Linked DNA regions of Homo sapiens: region 2 is linked to region 1. A link means that fine-mapping ties the variant in region 1 to the expression of a gene that starts in the linked region. Tissue or cell type: NK cells. Region 1 holds a variant in brackets; the other region holds the start of a gene. All regions are shown on one strand. Distances are between the middles of the regions.

Evidence for each region. PIP is the estimated chance that this variant, and not a neighbour inherited with it, causes the effect.
Region 2: it holds the start of GCHFR, and the variant in region 1 is fine-mapped to the expression of GCHFR in NK cells (Gilchrist 2021, PIP 0.95). The same link has a PIP of 0.9 or more in whole blood.

Annotation. Positions count from the first base shown.
Region 1 is chr15:40,800,319-40,808,418 of GRCh38, forward strand. DNAJC17 (DnaJ heat shock protein family (Hsp40) member C17) reads right to left here and starts at 7,155. Exons shown (of 11, transcript NM_018163.3): 1 at 7,051-7,155. The coding sequence starts at 7,128. ZFYVE19 (zinc finger FYVE-type containing 19) reads left to right here and starts at 6,771. Exons shown (of 11, transcript NM_001077268.2): 1 at 6,771-7,550. The coding sequence starts at 7,272. RefSeq lists enhancers at 6,434-6,523, 6,984-7,033, 7,074-7,123, 7,754-7,803. The variant C/T (reference allele first, on the strand shown) is at 3,662.
Region 2 is chr15:40,759,916-40,768,015 of GRCh38, forward strand. GCHFR (GTP cyclohydrolase I feedback regulator) reads left to right here and starts at 4,153. Exons shown (of 3, transcript NM_005258.3): 1 at 4,153-4,301; 2 at 5,912-6,006; 3 at 7,311-7,793. The coding sequence starts at 4,266. The coding sequence ends at 7,434. DNAJC17 (DnaJ heat shock protein family (Hsp40) member C17) reads right to left here. Exons shown (of 11, transcript NM_018163.3): 11 at 5,246-8,100. The coding sequence ends at 8,025. It overlaps LOC124903474 (a long non-coding RNA gene), which reads right to left and starts at 1,353. Exons shown (of 2, transcript XR_007064599.1): 1 at 892-1,353; 2 at 559-811. It also overlaps the pseudogene SUMO2P15. RefSeq lists a silencer at 3,717-4,166 and enhancers at 3,833-4,698, 5,476-6,265.

The sequences.
Region 1 (8,100 bases):
CGGCCTCCCAAAGTGCTGGGATTACAGGCGTGTGCCACCGCACCTGGCCTCAACATGGTTTTGATCTGCATTTACCTAATGACTAGTGAAGTTGAGCATCTTTTCATGTGTTTATTGACCATTTGTACATCATCTTTGGGGAAATGTCTATTGAGATTGTCTTTTTCTTTTTTTTTTTTTAATTTTTTTACAGACAGAGTTTCACTCTGTCACCCAGGCTGGAGCATGGTGGCGTGATCAGAGCTCACTGTAACTTCAAACTCCTGGCTTGCCCATTTTTTAACCGAGTTGTTTTTTTGGTTGTTGAGCTGTGTTTTTTTTTCTACAATCATTTAAACATGTAAAACCCATTCTTAGCACATAAGCCATTAAAAAAAAAAAAGGTCAGCTGGGCACGGTGGCTCACGCCTGTAATCCCAGCACTTTGGTCAGGAGTTCAAGACCAGCCAGGCCAAGAGAGTGAAACCACATCTCCACTAAAAATATAAAAATTAGCCAGGCGTGGTGGCAGGAGCCTGTAATCTCGGCTACTCCGGAGACTGAAGCAGAGAATTGCTTGAACCTGGGAGGCAGAGGTTATAGTGAGCCGAGATTGCGCCACCATGCTCCAGCCTGGGCGACAGCGAGACTCCGTCTCAAAAAAAAAAAAAAAAAGGTCATGGGCCATTTGGCCCCTCAAACTGTAGTTTGCCCTACTCCTTCATTTTACATTTGGGGAAAGTCAGGTCCTGAGAGACGCAGTGACTGCCCTTGGTCTCCTGATTCTCAAGTAAAGTCGTTGCAGTGGTCTCTTTAGCTACTACTTCATTCATTCAACAAATACTTATTGAGAACCTACTATGTGCCAGTCACCAGGTAAGGGGCTGCTACAGAAGAGCATGAATCAGATCTGGTCCTCAGAAGTAGGAGTGCAGAGGGGATTAAGGCATGAGACAAATAATCACACAGATAAATACATAATTGCAAACTGAAATAAGTGCTAGAAAAAAGAAAAACCAGCTGCCATGAAATAGAATATAAGGCAAGGCTTCTCTGAGGATGCCATTTCGACTGAGTTCTGAAGGACAAGTAAAAGCAACCCAGATTAGCAGAAGGGGAGGAAGAGCATTCCTGGCAGAGGAAAATGTATGAATGAGCTAAGAAATTGTTGAGTATTGGCTGGGTGCGGTGGCTCACGCCTGCAATCCCAGCACTTTGGGAGGCCGAGGTGGGCGGATCACGAGGTCAGGAGATCAAGACCATCCTGTGAATGGTGAAACCCCGTCTCTACTAAAAATACAAAAAATTAGCCGGGCGTGGTGGCGGGCGCCTGTAGTCCCAGCTACTCAGGAGGCTGAGACGGGAGAATGGCGTGAACCTGGGAGGCGGAGCTTGCAGCCACTGCACTCCAGCCTGGGTGACAGAGCGAGACTCCGTCTCAAAAAAAAAAAAAAAAAAAAGAAAAGAAAAGAAATTCTATTGAGTATTTTATTAGAAGTGCTAAATAGGGTTTTCAGGGAGTAGCAAGATCATTCCATTTTCTGTGAGGAGAATTGGAGAGGCTCAATAGATCAGAATGGAATAGGCTGAAAGCAGAAAAAAGTTGGCAGGCTCCTCTAAACATTCAGCTGAGTGGATGGGGGCCTGGGCTGGAGCAGTAGTGGTGGAGACAGAGAGGGTGAACAGGTTTGGGGATTATTTGGGAGGCTGACTCATCAGGACCCGGTGATGTTCTAGATGGCAGGGGTGAGAGGATAGGGAGGTACTGAGAATGACTCCAGGTTCCTAGCTTGAATGGATGGATGGTGGTGCCACAAGATGGGGAAATCCAAGGAAGGAGCAGGTTTGGAGAGAGAATTGAAAGAGTTCAATTTTTTTTTTTTTTTTTTTCGAGACAGATTCTAGCTCCGTCACCCAGGCTGGAGTGCAGTGGCTTGATCTCAGCTCACTGCAACCTCCGCCTCCCAGGTTCAAGCGATTCTCCTGCCTCAGCCTCCCAGTAGCTGGGACTACAGGCACGTGCCACCGCGTCTGGCTAGTTTTTATATTTTTAGTAGAGATAGGATTTCACCCTGTTGGCCAGGCTGTCTAAAACTCCTGACCTCAGGTGATCTGCCTGCCTGGGCCTCTCGAAGTGCTGGGATTACAGACATGAGCCACTGCGCCTGGCCAATTTTTGGATGTAGTAAGATTTAGACCGCTGTGAAACATCCACATGGAGGGATCAAACAGGCAGATAGATACACAGATTTGAGATTCAGAGAAGTAGTCTGAACACAAGTTAAATTTGGTGGTGGTGCTCATCACTACCACTGAACCGCGCTGGACAGGGCCAGGGAGCCTTAGCAGAAGGAGCAGAGGCCTGAGCTGGACATCAGGGCATCAGGGCATCAGGGCATCAGGGTTCTAGTCCCAATTCTGCCACTAACCACCTTCTCCGAGCTGCAGTTTCGCCATCAGTAACACAGGGAGCTTGGCCTCCATTAGGGCTTCTTTGACTTTTGGATTAAAATTCCCTCCTCTGGCCAGGCGTGGTAGCTCATGCCTATAACCCAAACACTTTTCAGAGGCCAAGGCGGGAGGACTGCTTGAACCCAGGAGTTCAAGACCAACCTGGCCAACATGGTGGAACCCGATCTCTACAAAAATACAAAAATTAGCCAGGCATGGCGGTGCACACCTGTGGTCCCAGCTACTTTTGAGGCTGAGGTGGGAGGATTGCTTGAGCCCAGGAGGCAGAGTTTGCAGTGAGCAGTAATCATGCCACTGACTCCAGCGTGGGTAACACAGAGAGACCCTGGGTCAAAAAAAAAAAAAAGAAAAAAAAAGTCCTCCTCTCCTCCAGAATAAATACAAAAAAAAAAAAAATCACGCATGATTTTCAGAGGTTCCTTCACCCAGTTCCTGGAGCCTTTCTGTAGAGGGCAAATTGAGAACTCCTAGGCTATTTGGACAACCAGTTTAGGAGTTCTTCCTTGTATACACTTTAAATATTTGTTTGTCCTCTAGGTTGCCCTATGGCAGCAACCTAGGTTGTCTATGACAGGTATTAAACCATGGTGCGGGGACACCAGGGCCTAGGTTTTTCTTGCTTTCTACCAAAAAGTGTGTTGCCATGAAGCTAGCCAGTGTATCCAAAGTGTAAATGGGAGTAAGTGCTAGAAAGGAGAATGGCTGCTATGAAAAGAAAAATAGGTAAGGCCTCTTTGAGGGTGCCACCTACTTATGCTCCAAAATAGACTGTATGTATTAATATATACATTTGCTTTCTTGGAATGCCCTGCCTCCATCTCCACATGTCCAAACTCTGCCCATTCTTCAAGGCCCCAAATACCTTCTCTCCTGCCTTTATTCCTTCTCTCAAACTAATAGCAATCTCAGCCTACACTGAACATCCACAGCACTTTGTACCCCTCTTAAGGAACTCACCATGTCTCCCTTGTATGCGTGAATCTTGCCCCCCCATTAAAGGCAGGAGCAGCACCTGTTACCCTTTATAGAGTGGCTTCACACCTATCCCTTATCTCATCTGAGTTAGAACTGGATCCCAGCCACCACTGCCCAGCTCAGACCTTGGTCTCTTGCCTAGACACCAGCCCCATCTGACCCCCTAGTGGCAGCTCTTCCATTCCTCCCACCCCCACCCATTTTCATTATGCACACTAGTGTTGAATTTTCTTTT[C/T]TTTTTTAAGAGTGGCAGGGTCTCACCCTGTCATCCAGGCTGGAATACAGTGGCAAAATCATAGCTCACTGAAACTTCCCAGGCTCAAGTGATCCTCCCACCTCAGCCTCCCATGTAGCGGGGACTACAGGTGCGTAACACCCTGCCCAGCTTTTTTTTTTATATATAGAGAGAGAGACAGGCTCTCACTACGTTTCCCAGGCTGGTCTCAAACTCCTGGCCTCAAGCGTTCCTTCCACCTTGGCCTCCCAAAGTGCTGGGATTGCAGGTGTGAGCCATCACACTCAGTCAAATACTTTCTTTAAAATCCAATTATGGGCAGGGCACAGTGGCTCATGCCTGCAATCCCAGCACTCTGGGAGACCAGGCAGGAGGATAGCTTGAACCCAGGAGTTCGACACCAGCCTGGGCAATATAGCTGGACCCCGTCTCTGGAAAAAAAAAAAAAGCAAAAACAAACACAAAACAAATTAGCCAGGCATGATGATGCACACCTGCAGTCCCAACTACATGAGAGGCTGAGGTGGGATCACTTGAGCCCAGGAAGTCGAGGCTGCAGTGAGCTGTGATTGTGCCACTGCATTCCAGCCTGAATGACAGTGAGATCTTTTCTCAAAAAATAGACATAAAAATAAAAAAAAAATAAAATCTGATTATGTAACTTCTCTAATTAATAGAGAATGACTTCCAACTGACTTCCTCAGGAGTTCTCAACTTCAGGGTTAGAAACTCTAGATTTCAGCCGGGCGCGGTGGCTCACGCCTGTAATCCCAGCACTTTGGGAGGCCAAGGCCGGCAGATCACTTGAGGTCAGGAGTTCAAGACCAGCCTGACCAACATGGTGAAACCCTGTCTCTGATAAAAACACAAAAATTAGCTGGGTGTGGTGGCACATGCCTGTAATCCCAGCTGCTCAGGAGGCTGAGGCAGGAGAATTCCCTGAACCTGGGGGGCAGAGGTTGCAGTGAGCCAAGGTTGCACCACTGCACTCCAGCCTAGGCAAGAGAGTGAGACTCCGTCTCAAAAAAAAACCCTCCAGATTTCCCACTTGGATCTTTTGTGAAATGTCTCAAATAGTTTCTCACTATTAATAAAGTACTAATTAAATAATTTGCAGGCAGGGCATAGTGGCTCACACCTGTAATCCCAGCACTTTGGGAGGCCGAGGTGGGAAGATCACGAGGTCAGGAATCCAAGACTGGCCTGGCCAACACGGTGAGACCCCGTCTCTACTAAAAATACAAAAATTAGCTGGGCGTGGTGGCGGGTGCCTGTAATCCCAGCTACTTGGGAGGCTGAGGCAGGAGAATCACTTGAAACAGGAAGGCGGAGGTTGCAGTGAGCCGAGATCATGCCACTGCACTCCAGCCTGGGCCAAAGAGTGATACTCTGTCTCAAAAAAAAAAAAAAAAAAAAAATTAGCCGGGCGTGGTGGTACATGCCTGTAGTCCCAGCTACTCCGGAGGCTGAGGCAGGAGAATCGCTTGAACCTGGGAGGCAGAAGTTGCAGTAAGCTGAGATTGCGCCACTGCACTCCAGCCTGGGCGACAGAGCGAGACTCCGTCTCAAAAAATAATAATAGGCCGGGCACGGTGGCTCACGCTTGTAATCCCAGCACTTTGGGAGGCTGAGGTGGGCAGATCACGAGGTCAGGAGATCGAGACCACGGTGAAACCCCGTCTCTACTAAAAATAAAAATTATTAGCCGGGCATGGTGGCAGGCGCCTGTAGTCCCAGCTACTTGGAGAGGCTCAGGCAGGAGAATGGCGTGAACCCGAGAGGCGGAGGTTGCAGTAAGCCGAGATCGCGCCACTGCACTCCAGCCTGGGCCACAGAGCGAGACTCCGTCTCAAAAACAATAATAAAAAATAATAATAATAAAGAATTTAAAAAATAATAATTTGTAAACATAGAGCACTTAGAATACTATCCAGAAAAAAAAAATACTGTCTAGGACATAGTAAGCATTATACAGATGTTAGGAATTATTAATCCTAAAATATTGAAACACGAGAGAGGTGGAGCAGATGCTTTTGATGCTTCATAGACATCCCATGGCCATTTCTGATTTCAGCTGCGGCTGCAGGGGACAGATTTGTGCAGGTTGACAGCATTTCTCAAGGGCCCTCTGGGTCTCTCTGATTTTCTGCCCCAGAGCTTCCTCTTCTCAAAAGCTCACTCACCCCATGAGCAGGGCAGCCCAGAAGTACTGGGACATTAGTGGGCACTATTTTTTTTTCCTTTTTTTTTTTTTTTTTTGAGACAGTCTCGCTCTGTCGCCCAGACTGGAGTGCAGTGGTGCAATCTCAGCTCACTGCAACCTCCGCCTCCCGGGTTCCAGTGATTCTCCTGCCTCAGCCTCCCAAGTAGCTGGGACTACAGGTGTGTGCCACCACGCCCGGCTAATTTTTGTATTTTTAGTAGAGAAGGGGTTTCAGCATATTGGTCAGGCTGGTCTCGAACTTCTGACCACATGATCCGCCCGCCTCGGCCTCCCAAAGTGCTGAGATTACAGGCGTGAGCCACCGCGCCCGGCCTAGTAGACACTAATTTTCTTTCTTTCTTTCTTTTTTTGAGAAAGAGTCTTGCTCTGTCGCCCAGGATGGAGTGCAGTGGCGCGATCTCGGCTCAGTTGGGCACTAATTTTCATTTGATGAACGCCTCTCCTTCGTATATTGTTAAAACTACCACCATGATCCAGGGGGAGATAAAAGAAATCCTAAATCCAGCTTGATCAGTGTTTCACTCCCTGGCATCTTTATCACCACCTAAGGTAGCATGGACCTCTATACCATCTGCCTTAACCTTCTGATCCTCCTGCTTTTAGCCCACTAACTAGCACATGCTGAGAAGGGCATCAGCTACTTGAAAAGAGTCAATGGGCTTGAGTGGAAAAGAAAATAGAGACAGCAGGGTCATCGGTCACATTGGCAAGGGGGCATGAAAAGGGAGTGGAGAGGCTTTGAGATCTTACTTTTCTTTCGTTCTAGGCTCTTAGTGGAAGAATTAAATCAGCCTGCAGAAGAGACTGAAATGAGGCACCTCTTGTCACAGTCAAGGCAGAAGCGGAAACGGAGGCCGAGACTGCGCAGGCGCAGAGGAGGCTAGCGTTCCTTGCTGCCTCGCCCCGCGGCCTCTAGGAGACAGGGGCCACGGGGAGAGCACAGCCACCCGGCGCGAAGAGCCCTCTGTACCCCGCTTCCTCTTGAGGCCCTCGGACCGTCCAGGAAATGTCTGGGAGCCCGCCTGCGGAGGGCATAGCGCCGACCCTCGCTCCCCGCCCAGGACCCGAATGAACCTGGAGAGCGGATGCCAGCAGTGGCCGAGGCGCTAGGACAGGAAGGACCGCCAGACCTCTCAAGATCAGCCTTCCTCGCCACCGTTCTCACCTCTTTGTCCGCTGCCTTCTCCTCAATGCCTAGCAGCGCGTACAGGTCCATCTGTAAGAGCTCCTTGGTCACTGCCATGGTTCCGGCCTGACGGATTCGTACTACAACTCCCAAGAGTCTAAGCGCGCGTGAGGACTGCAGGCTCCGAGCGGCGCCTAGCCCTCTGGGAATTGTGTTCTGGGTCAGGCTTGACTGACTCTGAGGGAGGCCGGCAGTCGTGAATGAACTACGACTCCCAGCAGCCCCCGTTGCCGCCGCTGCCGTACGCTGGCTGCAGGAGAGCGTCCGGATTCCCTGCTCTAGGTCGCGGCGGGACAGTGCCAGTGGGCGTGTGGGGCGGGGCAGGGCAGGGAAGGGAAGGGCGGAGCTGGGGTGAGGGTCCAAGGGGCCCAGGACTTGGCCGGCGTGATCTCAGCTCTGCAGACCCTGCGGTGCTGGGAGCCACCATGGAGAGTAGGTGCTACGGCTGCGCTGTCAAGTTCACCCTCTTCAAGAAGGAGGCGAGTCTTCCCTCCCCGAGGGCTGCAGGGCCAGGGAGGAGAGGAGGGAAAAGCGCGGGACTTAACGTCCAAAGACTTGGTCTTACGGCTCCTTTCCAGCTGTGTGGTTTTGATGAAGTCATTGATCCTCAGTTTCCATTTCTGTAAAATGGGGCTAACATTCTCTCGCTTTCAGGGTTTATGTGAGGGTCCACTGAAGTGCTTTAGGTGAGAGTTCCCTATAAACTGTAAAGCGCGCTGCCGTCGTTTTTGCAAAGCTACTCTTTTCTGTCGGCCCAGTGTAGCATCTGGCGGTTTTCTTCTCTCCACCCTGCTCCTCCGAAGCGCGGTGTCCATCACACCAAGCCCGTTACTCCCTCTGCTCTGAAATCTTCCCCATCCCGCAGCCTGCCCTTCTCCAGGTCGCTGGAGTTAGATTACCACACTTCCTCCTGCTTCCGGGGCACCATGGTGAAGGCTGACTGTCCTGTCCCTATCACAGACCTGCCAGATTCCTCTGGTAAACTGCAGGTTCCCTCTGCCTCAGTTGTGGCCAGGGATTCTGACCAGG
Region 2 (8,100 bases), 40 kb before region 1:
CATGCGTCACTGTGCACAGCCAAATTTTTGTATTTTTAGTAGAGACGGGTCTTCATCATGTTTGCCAGGGTGGTCTCTAACTCCCAGCCTCAGGTGATATGCATGTCTTGGACTCCCAAAGTGCTGGGACTACAGGCGGGGGCCACTGCGCTGGCCCTCAGTTCTTTCAGGAAGTCCCAAAACCTGTGAAATTAACCATCCTCCCAGCTGCGCTTGCTTACAGAAACAAAGGCCAGGTGCCAATAACCAGGAACCAGCCACAAGATGAACTGAACTCAGCAGTGCTGCCTTGACCTGAGTTACTGCTTCACTGCTATACTAAAATCTCCACTCAGTGCGGAGAAATGTACCTTGCTAAGCACAAACAGTGCCAGGTGCAAAAAGAATCTACACACTCCAGCTGCTCCTGGAAGAACCCATCCAGGAATCCCTACCCCAGTCTTCACCTATCTGCCCAAAAAACCCTTAAGATCCCCCTTTACCCAATGTCCAGGGAGCAGGTGCTTTGAGCAGAAGCTCCCCTTTTCCATTCTTGACCAATGAACGTTTCTGCTCTGCTTTACTGAACCTGGTTTCATTTTATTGGTAAGAACTGCACTGGACGGGTCAAGCGACCCTCCCTTGAGGGCGGTAACAGTACCTGCTTTGTGAAGCAGCAGCTGCAGAGATTCTGGTGCTTGCCATGGCCATGGAAGCTCAAGGAAGAAGTTAAGACTGAGAACAACGATCATATTTGTTTGAAGGTGGTGTGGCAGGATAGTTCTGTGGCGCAGTTTAAGAGGCATACACTGCCTAGTAAACTGATGAGAGCCTATTGTGAATAACAGGATTTGTCAATGAGGCAGATCAGATTCGGATTTGATGGGCAGTCAATCAATGAAACAGACATACCTGCACAGTTGGTAATGGAGGATGAATACACAATTGACGTTTTCCTGCAGGAGACAGGTGTCTACTAAAAAAGGAACCTACTACTTTACTCCAAACCTCTGTTCTTACAGACCAAGATTACATCCTCAATTAGAAAACTGCAATTTGGTTCCACTACATCCCGACCAATATAGTATAGTTTTATTTCATTTTCACCTTCCCCTTTCCTTTGCTGTACATACAGTAATGGGTATGTGTGCACCAGCGTATTGCATTTGTGTTTTTGTTTGTTTTTTTGTAAAATGGCCAATGGTGTGTTCTGATTGACATCAGGTGGAGATGGGACTGGGAAAAATACTGCTTCTGTGAAAATACCCCCTTTCTCCATTCTTGGCATGCTCATTCAGCTCTTATCTTTTTTTCATATATTTATTTTAGATGAAGTCTTGCTCTGTTGCCCAGGCTGGAGTGCAGTGGTGTAATCTTGGCCCACTGCAGCCTCCGCCTGCCAGGTTCAAGCGGGACTACAGGCATGTGCTACCACATCTGACTTTTTTTTTTTTTTGAGACAGAGTCTCACTCAGTCACCCAGGCTGAAGTGCAGTGGCATGATCTCAGCTCACTGCAACCTCTGCCTCCTTGGTTCAAGCGATTCTCCTGCCTCAGCCTCCCGAGTAGCTGGGACTACAGGTGTGTGCCACCACGCCCAGCTAATTTTTGTATTTTCAGTAGGACAGGGTTTCACCATGTTAGCCAAGCTGGTCTCGAACTCCTGAACTCAAGTGATCCACCCACCTCGGCCTCCCAAAGTGCTGGGATTACAGGCATGAGCCACCGTGCCCGGCTCAGCTCTTGTCTCTATATTCCAGTGAGTTATATTTTGCTCTGTTTTAACTAAAAAATGACAACATAAAAATCCTTCCATACTTTATTCAACTGAAGAATTTTAATGTTTTTCATTTATCATTGTAAAAACCAAGGACAATTGTATAACTTAAAAAAATCCTTCTAATCAGTGGATGATTTTTGTACATAGCTTTCACATGTAGGGTAATCTGTCTTTAAGTAGGGATAAATTACTTAAAAATAAACCAAATCATGGCTCACTGCAGCCTCAACCTTCTGGGCTCAAGCGATCCTCCCACCTTGGCCTCCCAAAGTGCTTAGATTACAGGCGTGAGCCACTGTGTCTACAAAGTCTTGGGGTTTAAATAAATTTGGTTAAAATGAAAAAAAGTAAAATTGACTTTAATTTGTATTTCCTGTATTTCTAATGATATACTAGGCATCATGTTATATGTTTATTGGTCATTTCTATTTCCTCTTTTGTGAAGGGCCTATTCAAGTCAGTTACCCCTGTTTTTTCCATTGTTCATCTTTTTCTCACTGAGTTGTAGGAGCTCCTGGGCATCAATCTTTTGTTAGTTTTTTTTTTTTTTTTTTTTTTTGAGACGAAGTATTGCTCTGCCCCAGGCTGGAGTGCAGTGGCCCAACCAATCTCGGCTCACTGCAAGCTCCGCCTCCCAGGTTCACGCCATTCTCCTGCCTCAGCCTCCCGAGTAGCTGGAACTACAGGCGGCCCCCACCACGCCCGGCTAATTTTTTGTACTTTTAGTAGAGACGGGGTTTCACTGTGTTAAGCCAGGATGGTCTCGATTTCCTGACCTCGTGATCCGCCCGCCTCGGCCTCCCAAAGTTCTGGGATTAGCAGCGTGAGCCACCGCGCCCGGCCCTTTCGTCAGTTTTAACACATCCTTTGTTAAGCATGAATGTGTTTTATCTCTCTGGCTAACTTGTTAGGTCAGTGGGTAAGAGGGCAGGGGTAGGAACTACAGAATAATAAATTAGACCAGTTAAGGAACGTTTAGGATTACAACTTCCTGCTTCCCTTATAGCTCTCTCCACGTCTGTCAAAGTGTTGGAACGGCAGCATCCCCTATAAAGGCCCCTCTTAAAAAGTGAAGATTATTACCCTCCCATGGGAGGGAAGGCTACCTACAGGCTGTTTTTGTTTTGCTTTATTTTCTAGAAAACCAATCACAGGCCGGATGCGGTGGCTCACGCCTGTAATCCCAGCTCTTTGGGAGGCCAAGGCGGGTGGATCACCTGAGGTCGGGAGTTCGCCACCAGCCTGACCAAAATGGAGAAACGCCGTCTCTACTAAAAATACAAAATTAGCCGGGCGTCGTGGCGCAGGCCTGTAATCCCAGCTACTCAGGAGGCTGAGGCAGGATAATCGCTTGAACCTGGGAGGCGGAGATTGCGGTGAGCGGAGATCGCGCCATTGCGCTCCGGCCTGGACAATAAGAGCGAAACTCCATGTCCAAAAAAAAAAAAAAAAAAGAAAAGAAAAAAGAAAACCAATCACAACAAGGCAGATAAAGAAGGATGAGTTGTCAGATTTTGATAACTGCGGATGAGGGGCGTGGACACACGGTTGGGAACTCGCAGCCGCTCATTGGTGGCTGGTGCGGGGGAAGTTGTTTCATTTGCCCCAGGTGTTGCCCAGTGACCTCCTGCGCGTGCGCCGCGTCTGTCCAGCTGCGCGGGAAGCTCAGGGGAGGGAAGGCCAGGTTCCATCCATTCAGTCACTCCAGACCTGGCACCCAGCCAAGCGCGCGGTTCCTTTACAGACTTTCCTGCGGGTCCACAGAAATGCAAGGATCCGCCTCTGTGCTGGAATTAGAGTCTGGGAGGGGGAATGCACAGTGCGCCCTGGGTGGTATTTTAGTTGTCGCCTTCAGGGCTAGCTCCGAGCCTCGTGCCCCGGCCTCCTCAGCGCTTAAGGAATCTCTGGAGCGCATGTCTTGGCGAGGGGAAGTGGGGCCCCGTTGAAGCTGTCGAGGCGTCTCTGAGAGGGGTGGGCTGGGGCCTGGAGAGGCCTCCGTGAGGACGCCGTTTGCTCTGGGCTCTGCCTGGCAGGGGACTTTGGAACCTGGCCTGAAGTGTTCAAGAAGCGGGCGCGGGGGCAACACGCGCGCGGGGACGCAGTAAGATCACAGGCTGCAAAGAAAACAGCACTAAGCGTCCTGGAGGACGCTGGAGCTTCAGGATAGTGTCCTTCCAGGTCGTGGGACCGCCCCCTCCTCCCCGCACTCCACCTTCCCGCAACTGGATCACTCGGCGGAAGCCTCAGGTGGGCCCCGGGGTCCAAGTCCGCCGCCGGGAGGGCGGGGGCGGGCCCCGAACCGCCGACTGCAGGGCGCGTCACGGCAGCCGCTCCTGATTGGCGGCCACGGCGGTCACGGGCAAGGTGCCCCGGGATTGACGCCGCCTGTGGCCAGAGCCGGAGTAACGGGACTCCCAGCTGCGCGTCGCAGTCCCGACGCGAGAAGGGCTGGAGTCGGCGTCCAGCCTAGAGCCCCCGGTGGGAGCCAGGCCGGGACGCGTGCACCATGCCCTACCTGCTCATCAGCACCCAGATCCGCATGGTGAGTACCGGCCGCCTGGCGACTTGGAGCCGGGACCAGGCCCTAGGGGGCTGCGACTGCACCTTCATGCCTCCCTCCTGGGCTGCACCCACCGGGGACTGGACCGGGAACCCGCCCAGACACGCCCCCTTGGCCGGGGAGAGGGAGTGGAGAAGCGGGCTCAGCTCGGCTTCCGGGACTCAGCGAGCTCTGGCCGGCCTGAAGCCTTTATTGCCGCGAAGGGGCCCGGGTACGTGCGTCCCGGCAACAGGGCGACCTCCGGGCGCTTCCGGCTCCTGTCCTACCTGTCGGCGGGAGAGACCCAGGGAGCCCTGGCCTCACGCGCAGCACCTAGTGCCCTGCACAGAGCCGCTCCGCAGGGGAAAAAAGGGCGAATAACCTGAGAGAAAGAGGTTTGGAAAAGATAAGGACCTGCCAAGGCGCTAAAACCCCGGTGCCAAGTCCTTGACCCATAAACAGCAACTAGCTGCACCCTTAGGCACTTCCAGGAAGGGCTATCCCTGAAGCTTTAGGGAAGGAAGAAAAGAAAGAACACCCTGCTTGGAAAAAAGGAAGGCGAGAAGGGGCTGTGCAGTTAGAGGTGGGAACACCATGAGTTAGAAGTCACGTTCCTTTCTCTGGGCGCAGTTTCCTTATCTGTAAAAAGGTTCTGATTGCCCCTCAGGAGTCCCCTTTTAGCTTCAGAAAGACATGACGGGCAGCAAGGTGCTCTCTGCCCTTGCTCACTGCCCAGTGCTGGGGTGAACCAGCAAAGGGTACACAACCCCCTTGGTGGGTTCACCACGCAACAGAGAGCTCTTGCAGAGCCCTGGGCAGCGGTTTGTGAAGCAGCCATCTGCTCAGCTGCCAAAATGTGGATTCCTGGGTCCCTTCCCAGACCTCCTAAAACTCTGTCTGGGGCTTGGGAACCCATACTTGGAAATGGCCCCCCAAAGTGATTCTTATTTCTTAAAAGATATGGCTTTATTGATATGTAATGTGCATACCATAAATTCTTTGATTTAAAGTGTACAATTCAGTGTTGTTGTTTCTTTAGTGTACTCAGAGTTGTGCAACCATCACCATAATCAGTTTTAGAACATTTCTAATACCCCAAAAGGAAACCCTGTACCCACTGGCAGACACTCTTGATTTCCCCCAAGTCCCTCAGCCCTAGATAACCACTAATTACCTTTCTGTGGTAATGTGATCTGAGTCTGGCTTCTTTCATTTACATGTTTATTTTGTTTTGTTTTTTTGAAATGGAGTCTCACTCTGTCACCCAGGCTGGAGTGCAGTGGTGCAATCATGGCTCACTGCAGCCTCAAACTCCTCCCACCTCAAGCGATCCTCCCACCTCAGCCTCAGTAGCTGGAACTATAGGCTCGTGATACTTTGCCTGGCTAAAGCTGAGCTTTAAGGCACTAGGGAGGGCGCCTACATTGCTCCTCCTGATCATTGATGGGCTCCACCCCTTCACAGCTTGTGCTCAGCCCCTAAGAATCCTTGCTACTCTCTGTAGCCTTTACCTGAACCTTACTCAGGGCTAGCAGGCAGGGGAGGAAGGACAGGCAAGACCTTCCACCTCCTCCTGGCAGCCAGCCAAGCAGCCACTGTGGCTTACCTTGCAGGAGGTGGGCCCCACTATGGTGGGCGATGAACAGTCGGATCCAGAGCTGATGCAGCATCTGGGGGCTTCAAAGAGAAGAGCCTTGGGAAACAACTTGTAAGTAGCAGCCTCCCTCAGTATCCTCTCCCTGCCAGCCCCTAGACCTGCCTCTGCTCCCTTTATACAACCTCCAAGCCCAGGGACAGGGCCCAGCATCAGAGCCCCCTGCCTGCATCCTGGGGCTCTGTTCTCCGGAGGAGTTGGTCCCATCTGTAGCCTCTCCAACATCCCCCCTCTCCCCCACGAGGCTTGCTCTGAAAGCTTTCCACATCCTTACTGGAACCGCAGAAACAGAGTCCGTTCCCTGGGTCTAGGACTCCACTAGCAGACTGTTCCTTGCCCTGCCCTCTCCTAAGCTGGACCCCATCAAGGACAGACAGGCACAGAGAGAAAGGTTTTTGTCGTGAGGATCTGCATGAGTCGCAAAGCTAAGCCCTAGAAGCAGGGAGCAGGGAGCCTGCGTCCTACCTCCAGGGTGGCTGCTGCCTGGGGACCTAGCCATTTCCCTTGGCATTCTTCCTAATGCCTCCATGTCTAAACTGTGACTACTGCTTCCATTCCTCCTCTCACCCCTGGAGGCAGGGAGAACCCAAGCTACACAGGCTCTCTGAAAAGAGTTGTCAGAGTGAGTGCCAGTTCAAATCGGGGAAAGAGGAGGGCTGATCCCAGCCCCTGGGTCAAGGCTCGGGGACAGAAGCCAGCCCCCTCCCTTTGCCATGAGGCACTTGCCTCTCCATGCCCAGCTTGGGGCTTGAGCCCTTTGTCTGCTTCATGGTCTTTCAGCATCAATTAAACCTGACAGAAGGACTACCAGCACTCTCCATGCTAGGGAGTGGCGCACAGAGCCAGGAGCTACTGGGGCTCAGCCTTGTTGCTACAGAACTGCAGGACAGCCAGGGCAGTGAGGGGCCTGGAGGCTTATTTTTTTTTGAAATGGAGTCTCTGTCGCCCAGGCTGGAGTGCGGTGGTGCAATCATGGCTCACTGCAGCCTCAGCCTCCTCCTACCTGGAAGCCTGGGTGGGGAGCAAGCCCAGGGAGGGCGGCAGCAGGGCTGTGGTCAGACTAACATGGTCTACCATCTGGGACGCTGGGGAACCTGATTAACCCCTCTGTTTTCTCATCTATCAATGGCCACAACAGTGGCACCTTCACTAGCTTGTTGGGAAGAATAAATGAGATAGCTCGTGAAGTACCTAGAAGGGGAGGAGGCAGGGGGCGTGCACTTACCCCAGCGCCCAGCAAGCAGCCAGCAAGTGTGAGTCACTACAAGAGTGGCCAGGCTGCCTGCTGCAGACACTAGCTTTGTACCAGGAGCTTGCTGTGTGCCCCTCCTCACCCCCCCCATCCTGTCTCTTTGCAGTTATGAATACTACGTCGATGACCCTCCCCGCATAGTCCTGGACAAGCTGGAACGCAGGGGCTTCCGTGTGCTGAGCATGACGGGGGTGGGCCAGACGCTGGTGTGGTGTCTGCACAAGGAGTGACCTTCTCATGCTGATTTGCAGACGGGGCACCCCTGTGGAGGGGCTGCTGTGGGCCCTGACCTCCAAGCTCCTGCCTCACCGTCTGCCTTGCTCCTCTCTTCCCAAATCATCACCGCCATGGGCCCAGCCCCAAAGGGCAGTGAATGGCCTTCTCTGAAACCCTGCGTCAAGCAGTGGGAGAGGGCAGTGCCCGGTGCCCTGGTGCTCCCAGCTGCCCTCCTGCTTCGGGCCTGGGCCGAGGGCCTTGTGTAGGCCATGTTCCTCGGGCAGCTGCCCCGGGCCGGAGCTGGGCACTCCAGCGGCCCTGGCGCGTGGCTCCTGCATAGCTAGCCCAAGCCAATAAAGGGCTGTGATGAGTGGCTGCGCCTGTGCTCTGCTTGTGCACGGACTCTGGGACTCTCACCCTGCGGAGCGTTTCCCTGGGGGTCTGCCCACTTCCTGGGAGGGGCGCCAGGCCTGGGTGGAGCGCTCTGCGGCAGAGCCCAGCACCTTATACCTATGTATGGGATAGAGGTAAAATCTTAAAAAAAAAAAAAATTTATTGGTGACGTTGAAGAAAAGGGCTGAGGGGTGGATGGCTGGAGCTGGGGCTACGTAGGCGGCCCCTCCTGGTCTTCCTGCTGCATCCGTGCGATCAGCTGTTGCCGCTCGGCCGCCTGGCGCATG